Homo sapiens: one gene and its partner. The protein of the gene in region 1 purifies or fractionates together with the protein of each later gene. This does not show direct contact. Each region holds a gene or a part of one and is shown in the gene's direction. Other genes may lie near its edges.

Region 1 (3,821 bases):
TCTGGGAGGTGAGAGGAAGGCAGAATTGGGCAAGCTCCATGGTTGAGAGGGCTTTGGAGCGGAGTCTGGAAGGGTGACTAGGCTTCAGACACACAGAGGAGGAAGGAGAGAGAGAACTGGTGGTGCCTGAGGGAAGGGAAAAGGCACCAAAGAGAAAAGCAGGTAGGGCTAGGGAGCAGCGCAGGGGCTGGAGCATTAAACACAGGCTGGGGAGCGATGGAGGCTGAGGCTGGGAACCCAGGTTGGGGCATCTCAGGAGGACTGTGAATCCCAGCCTGCATGTTTGGGTCGGATTTGGTCAGCAGTTTGGAACAGAAGAGAGATGTCATCAGCATAACACTTTTAGGTGGGAACCTGAGGTGTTCAGCGCAGGCTGGAGGCAGGGAGAATCTAGAGGTATAATAGAAGCAGGACTTAGCATTGACTGCAGTAGTCTAGGTGAGCAATAACTGCAGACAGAAATGGTGTGTCAGCAGTCAGGGACAGAAGAGGAGCGGGAGCAGCCATCTCACTAAGGAAGAATCCAGTAACCAGCAAGGATGAGAGACTGCCAGGAGAGGGAGTGGTGGAGGAGAGGGATATTTGGCTTGAGTATCTGAGGTCCAGCGCCCCCTGAGCTGGAATCAGATTATACCCAGACTGCACTCCTGCAGTGCTGCCTGGCTCCTGTAGTTGGATGGCAGGGGATAGGCTCCCTCATCCTCCCTCCCGTTCCCCACCTTCCCTTCCCCAATGTCCCTGCATCCTGGCTTCAGCAGTGATCTCTAAAATACCTGCTTGACTTGGAGGCAGCAGCTCTGCCTGCTTATTAAAGTCCCTAGACCAGCAAGAAGACCAGAAGGCATACTGCTACACAAGCACGTGACAAGTCCGCCTCCACCCCCACCCCTACACCCCTTCCAAAGTAGCACAAATGCCACAGTGAGCCCTCAGATGGGAAATACTCACCAGATGGTGACAGAGAAAGACACCTCCGCCCTTGGAGAAGGAAGACCTGGGTCTTCAGTGAGCACTGCTGCTGTGTACCAGCTATGGGACTTTGCACAAGTCATTCAGGCTTTCTGGGCCTCATAAGCATTTATAAACATACGATAAAACATTTTAGTTGCCAACTTAAAAATGTGTGAGAAAGTATAAGGTGTTTCAAAATTATTTCAAGGAGTAAAGAGGCAAGAGTTTTGAAGATCCCTGGGCAGGGTGTTGGCTGTTCCCAGTGTGGCCATTCATGACTGCTCTCTGGCCTTATGAAACAAGCATCATAGTCCCTGGCTTGCCTGCTTCATGGGGCTGTGGAGGGTGAAATTCGAGCATGGACAGGGTGCAGAGCCCGGAGTGGCAGAGCACTGGGTAGACTGTGTATTCCCAGAATGTGGGAAACTGGAATGAATCGGTCCAGGGATGCCCTCCTGCTGGCTGTCAGCAGCCCCTCCTGTGTGTGGCTGTACTGCTTCAGCTCAGTGCAAAGGGCCATCTCCTCCCCAGGGCACAGATCAGCTCAAGCTGAGTAATTGTCATCTGGTCTTTGTGAGCTCCTACCCCCAGGCCTGAGTGAGGGGCAGGAAAAGAGCAGACAGGAGAAGTCACAGACCCTTGTGATACCTCCAGTCTAATCCAGCCTGGGTTTTCAGAGCTGTCTGGAAATTTAGGGGGCAGGTGGGAGGGGGCTGATTAAGGCAGCCCTGATTTGATTTAGAGTGAGCCTCATTTAGTGACTAATTAAGCCATCTTAAACCTGTAGGGCTTCCCCTCTTCCTTTGGGTATTATTTCTTTCTGTGATGTTCTGAATTCAGAACAATCAAAACAGTATAAGTTAGTGAAGAAGATATTTTTTAATAACTACAATATTTTCCCAGACCACCATACACTGGATAAAGCCTGTATATAAAACTTTACCTAATTTCTTAACTAATTGAATGTGTATTATTTAACAAAGCAGCTAAAAACTATTCTATGAAGCCATGTCATGAAATATTTAGTTCAATTATGGTTAATCCTCATCTTATTTCGTCTTATAAAATTTTAACATTTCTACCTCCTATTGCAAAAAAAAGCATTTATATCAGCATATAATAAAACATGTCTAGATGTCAGCTTAAAAATGTGTGAGAGAGTAGAGGGTGTTTCAAAATTATTTCAAGGAGTAAAGAGGCAAGAGTTTTGAAGATCCCCAGGAAGGGTGTTGGCTGTGCCCAGTGTTGCCATTCATGACTGCTCTCTGGCCTTGTCTGTCTTGTACCTTCTATATTAGTTTGAAGACCTTTTTTGGAGAATATTCACTAAAGAATATCAATATCTACCATTTCATTAAAAAAGAAATGTGGAGTTTGCCTTTTCAAGTTGGTTTGATGCTTATTGATGTTTTCAGGGACCCAGCCTCTTCCCATCTTTCCATACCATCCTGTGTGTGTGTGTCAGCCTATCTTCCCCATGGTCACAAGGTGGCTGCCTAGCTCCGGGTATTGCTTAGCATGAGCAGAGAGGGCATGCTGCCGACATGCCTCTCCTTTATGACAGAGATCATTCTTTCTTTGACATCTCACTGGCCAGAATACGTGGACCAACACTGGCAAAGGAGTATGGAATTGCATGGCTGCTTAAACCAATCACCATCCATTCCCTGGGGCTGGGTATATTGCTGCTGGAGCAAACCTGTGGTCCTCCTGGCACAGAATAAGGGGAAGATACTCTTTGGTGGACAGCCCACATTGCCTCTACACTTGCACCTCAGTCCCACCAGACCCACTGAGGTCACAGGATAGCTCTCCTCATGTCCTTCCTCCTTCTCTGTTGAACTCTTATGTATCCTTCAAAGTCCAGCCTGGTGCCACCTCCTCTGGGAAGCTGTCCTTGGTTGCCCACCCCCTCCTTTGTGCTCTCTCAGTCTCTGTCCATCGGCAGTATCACTTCCCTAGCCTGCTGACTCCAACAGTTAGCTCTGAGCATGGCAGCCCCCTCCATACCATCAGCTTCTCAAGGGCAGGGACCCTTGGCACACTGGATAGAAGTAGCCTGGTGGGCAACAGCAGCACTGAGGCAGCAAGCTGTAGCAGGCCATCTGGGAATGGAGTGGGTACCACAGGGCTGGAGCAGAAAGGGCAGGCTGGGCAGATCTGATAAAGTGGCTGGAGGCCACATAGCCTGGGCCTTTCGTTCCAGGCTGAGCAGAGTGGGTTTTGCTGTCTGCAGGAGGGAGCTGTGGAAGGGCATGATCACGACCAACTAAGGTGACCCTCCTCACCAGGCCCAGGGAAGACTGAGGCCTGGAAGGAGGCTCTGGCTGCCTCTGGGTCTTACCCCCAGGCCACAGTCCACCCACTTAGAGGCCTCTGTGAGTTAAGGTGGAGAGACTATGAGCTGGTATTGACTGCTCCATTCCCCATCCCGAGAGAGGAGACAAAATCAGTGACCTTGGAAATGCCTCTTCGTGCCTCAGTTTCCTCACCCCATAAAATGGGAGACTAAGAGTACCCACTCGATGGGGTTTAATGAAGATTAAATGGGTTAACATATATCGCATGCTTAGAACAGTGCCTGGCACAGAGTAAATGCTCCATAAATACTGACTCTCATCAGTTTGTTATCACAGCCTCTGGGGAGGGCGCCAGTGCTGACTTATGCTGTTCGTGTTAAATGGGGCTGTCACTGGGTGAGTTGTGGCATACAGGCCCCTGCACTGTTCAAGAGACCCCAGCAACCCTTGTGCTTAGGGCTCAGCACATAGTAAGGCCTCCAGATCATATACCCAGCTCTACTCCATGTACTGGCAGCTCTGCCCAGCCCATACCCCAAATACGCCCATTAACTAAAGGGCCCTGCAGCC
Region 2 (3,821 bases), on another chromosome or scaffold:
GCACAAAAGAGAAAGTACAATGAACCCATGTGGGTTCACTTGGGAATATGATGCTGGGACCTTTCAACTGGGAAAAGGACGTAACTGGGAAACACAGTTCAAATATATGCCTCATTCAAGTGACAACTGTTGTGGATGGTGAAAAAAAGAGAAACCCTGGGACTGGAAATAAAAAGAGAGTTAAAAGAGAAAGTCTGCAGTAGTAAAGAAGTATACAATGAAATTTGAAGTGAAACAAAACACAAGGAAAATAGAGCCTTAAAGTGTTTGTTAGGAATGCCTAGAAAGCTATCATAGACAGGACAATATTTGCAAGTGGGGAAGGGTGTTGCAAGTGTTGTAGATATGTAGATTAGATTAAAGAAACAAAATCTATAGCTTTTTATGTATCAATCATCCACCATCTTGGACTATGGTGGGACTGAGGAGATGAGGGTCTACAAATACTAATCTTAAAACCAGAAAGACAGGACATTGAACATTTGGATGGATAAACCAACATTGAAAAAAGTCTCAGCAGATGTATTGTTAGAGTAAAACAAGCTCACCACTATCTCAGGGATCTTACCATTTTTTTCTGAGGGGATGGCAACTAGGAACAAATTACATAGTTCCCACTATTTGGGACTTAAGATAGGTAAAATGTCCTTTCTTTTTTTTTTTTAAGTGTGCTGACCATTGTTTAAGTTTTTTTGTTTTTGTTTTTGTTTTTTGAGATGGAGTCTCACTCTGTCACCCAGGCTGGAGTGCAACGGTGTGATCTTGACTCACTGCAACCTCCCCCTCCTGGTTTCAAGTAATTCTCGTGTCTCAGCCTCCCGAGTAGCTGGGATTACAGGCACACACCACCATGCCTGCCTAATTTTTGTATTTTTATAGAGACAGGGTTTCACCATGTTGGCCAGGCTGGTCTTGGACTCCTGACCTCAGCTGATCCGCTCGCCTTGGCCTCCCAAAGTGCTGGGAATACAGGTGTGAGCCACCACACCCGGCCCATTGTTTAATTTTAATGAAAATATTTTTCCCGTAAGATTTTAAATTTGCCAACTGTGAACTTCAGATCCACTTATAAGTCCTAGTTCTCAGGGTTGGTAAAGGAGTATTATGAAGGGACAGGGACCATACACATTCATGTAGTATAGCGACTCATTGCTGGCATTCATCATGATGGGACAGGCATTGACAAGCTATGGCCTGTGGGCCAGATCTGACAGCTTGCCCGTATGTCTCGTGGGCTAAGAATGGTTTTCACATTCCTGAATGGTTGGAAATAAATCAAAAGAAGATCAGTATTTTGTGACCCATGAAATTTAGATGAAATTCAAATTTCAGTGTCTATAAACAAAGTTTTATTGGAACATAGCCATGCTCATTTGGTTACATATTGTCTACAGCTGCTTTCCCGCTGCAGTGGCAGAGTTGAGTAGCTGCAATGGAGACTGTGGGCCCACAGAGCCTGAAATATTTACTATGTGGACCTTTACAGAAAAAGTTTGCCATCTTTTGTTATAGATGAAAGAACCTATCTAAGTGATTGACAGTGAAACCACTGGAGATGAAAGAAATCGTTTTCATTTGGAAAGGAGTTCACAGTGTTTGGTTTCTTGTTCTTTAATTAGAAGTATAGGTTGGAGAAAGGTTCTCAGTTGATTGGCTTATTTGAGGAACACTGGCCGTCACAGCCAAAGCAGATGATGAAGTTAACATGGTTATTCAAAAGGTTGTGATCTTTCAAAGGCAGCAGATGAATTTTTTTTAAGTATTCGTGTTTCAGTTTAAAAATACTCCATGGACAGTTTCCATCTGACTTGCCCCCAAATAGATGTTATTTTAGCTATTTTGATTAGGTTGAATTCGAGTGAAAGAAATCAAGAAACAAATTTGTTAAGAACCAAAATGCTTTGTAGCACACATGGTGAGAGAAGATAACTCAGATATCAAAGAAGCATCAGACATGGGTCCACCCTTGAGAAATGCAGAGGATCAAAGAAGCACACAGAGCAGAAAGGGGTCCCTGGAGGAGGCTAGTATCTACTAGCCATGTCCCAAGGGATGACATTACCCCGGTACATCCTCCAGGGCTCAGGCTGGTCTTGCAATCTCAGAATACTGACTTGTTAGCACATCAAAAATTAATGTATCTTTCAGCAACAGATACACAGGTACCAGACTCTCAGAGACTCTAAAAGCCAGAAAGACAGTTTATTAATTTGACAATAAGATCTGTCACATCAGAGAAGTGGACACTCACGTCCTTTGGCTAATGTATTCTTCCTCTAAGTAAGCCATATGGGAAATCCAATTATTCTCAGAAGTCCGTTTTCTGCATTTACAATGAGAAGCCAAGCTGCCAGGAGGTCAGGATGCTTACATCTTCTGGCCTGTACAGGAGTACATCCTCTTCCTAGAGCAACAGAGCCTGGGAATTGGATGATAATGAGAAGGCAGTTCTGGGAATCGTCCAGGACAGCGTGGCTGCCACCTTTTCCAGTCAGATCACCATTACCTGTGCTCTCACAGCACACTTTGGTCCCACTCTGTAATAACATAGCACAAGTCCGATTCCATTGTAATGGCCTGCTTACTTCTCTTTTCACATCACTTGACTTTAGTCCCTATATTTTATTCATCATTTTATCTTCAGCTTCAGTGCAGTGCCCTGACTAGAGAAGGTGCTAATGGGCCCAGGGCAAGATGGCCACAGGCATCCTTCTCCTCAGGGATGGTGGCCTCTGTAACCCAAAAAGGCCCTTGCACTGGGCCCTTTGCTGGGGAAGGGCGTGGGTGACACCATCCACATCTGCCTCTGTTGCTTCTTCTATGTTTTTTGGCTAATGTGAATACTTTTTTAAAAATGACACTGCATAGCTCTAATCTAATCTATTCTTCCTCCTTAAATCCTCACCCACCTTTGAAAAAAAAACTAACATCTTTTTATTGTGGAAAAAATCAAAATATACAAAAAGAAGAAATAGCAGTATGATTCTTAATTCTTTTTGTTTGTGTGTGTGTTTTTAGACAGGGTCACTCTGTCACCCAGGCTGGAAGGCAGTGGTTTGATCACAACTCACTGCATCCTTGACCTCCTGGGTTCAAACGATCCTCCTGCCTCAGCTTCCTGAGTAGCTGGGACCACAGATGTGTATCTCCATGCCTGGCTAATTTTAAAAATTTTTTGTAGAGATGGAGTCTCCCTATGTTGCCCAGGCTGGTCTCAAACTGCTGGGCTGAAGTGATCTTCCCACCTTGGCCTCCCAAAGTGCTGGGACTATAGGCTTAAGCCACTGTGCCCAGCCAGTATGATCTGTGCCACCCCTTCCCTGGCTCCAACATCATCAACTTACAGCCAACCTTGTTTTGTTTATACCTTCACGCGCTCCCCACTCCCCCCAGGATTATTTTCAAGCAAATCCCATGTATTTCATCTGTAAATATTTTAGTATATGTCTCTAAAAGGTAGTGACTTTTTATAAAGAAAACAATACCACACACATTAAACAACTTGACGTTAGTTCTCTAATATAATCAATTATTCAGTCAGTGTTCAAATGTCCCCATTTACCTCATAACTTTCTTTTTTGCAGTTTGTTTGTATCAAGAGCCAAATAAGTTGCATTTAGTTGATATGTCTATAGGTCTGGGTTCTCTCTTTCTCTCTTTTTCTTCCTTGTAATACATTTCTTGAAGAAACTGGGTTGTTGTTGTTTTTTTCAGTCTGAATTTTCATTGTACCTCCATGCAGTTTTTTAAAACATGTTCCTTTGTCCCCTGTATTTCCTGTAAATTAGTATTTGGGTCTAGAGTTTGACTTTTTGGTAAGA

What was found.
Region 2: the proteins of ABCC8 (region 1) and RAPGEF4 purify together in Homo sapiens (affinity purification with western blotting, with the first as the bait; one study listed by BioGRID). This does not show direct contact.

The regions. Positions count from the first base shown.
Region 1 is NC_000011.10:17,470,337-17,474,157, reverse strand, and holds part of ABCC8 (ATP-binding cassette sub-family C member 8), read left to right. Parts: intron 1-3,821. UniProt on the Homo sapiens protein: Regulator subunit of pancreatic ATP-sensitive potassium channel (KATP), playing a major role in the regulation of insulin release.
Region 2 is NC_000002.12:172,738,677-172,742,497, forward strand, and holds part of RAPGEF4 (rap guanine nucleotide exchange factor 4), read left to right. Parts: intron 1-3,821.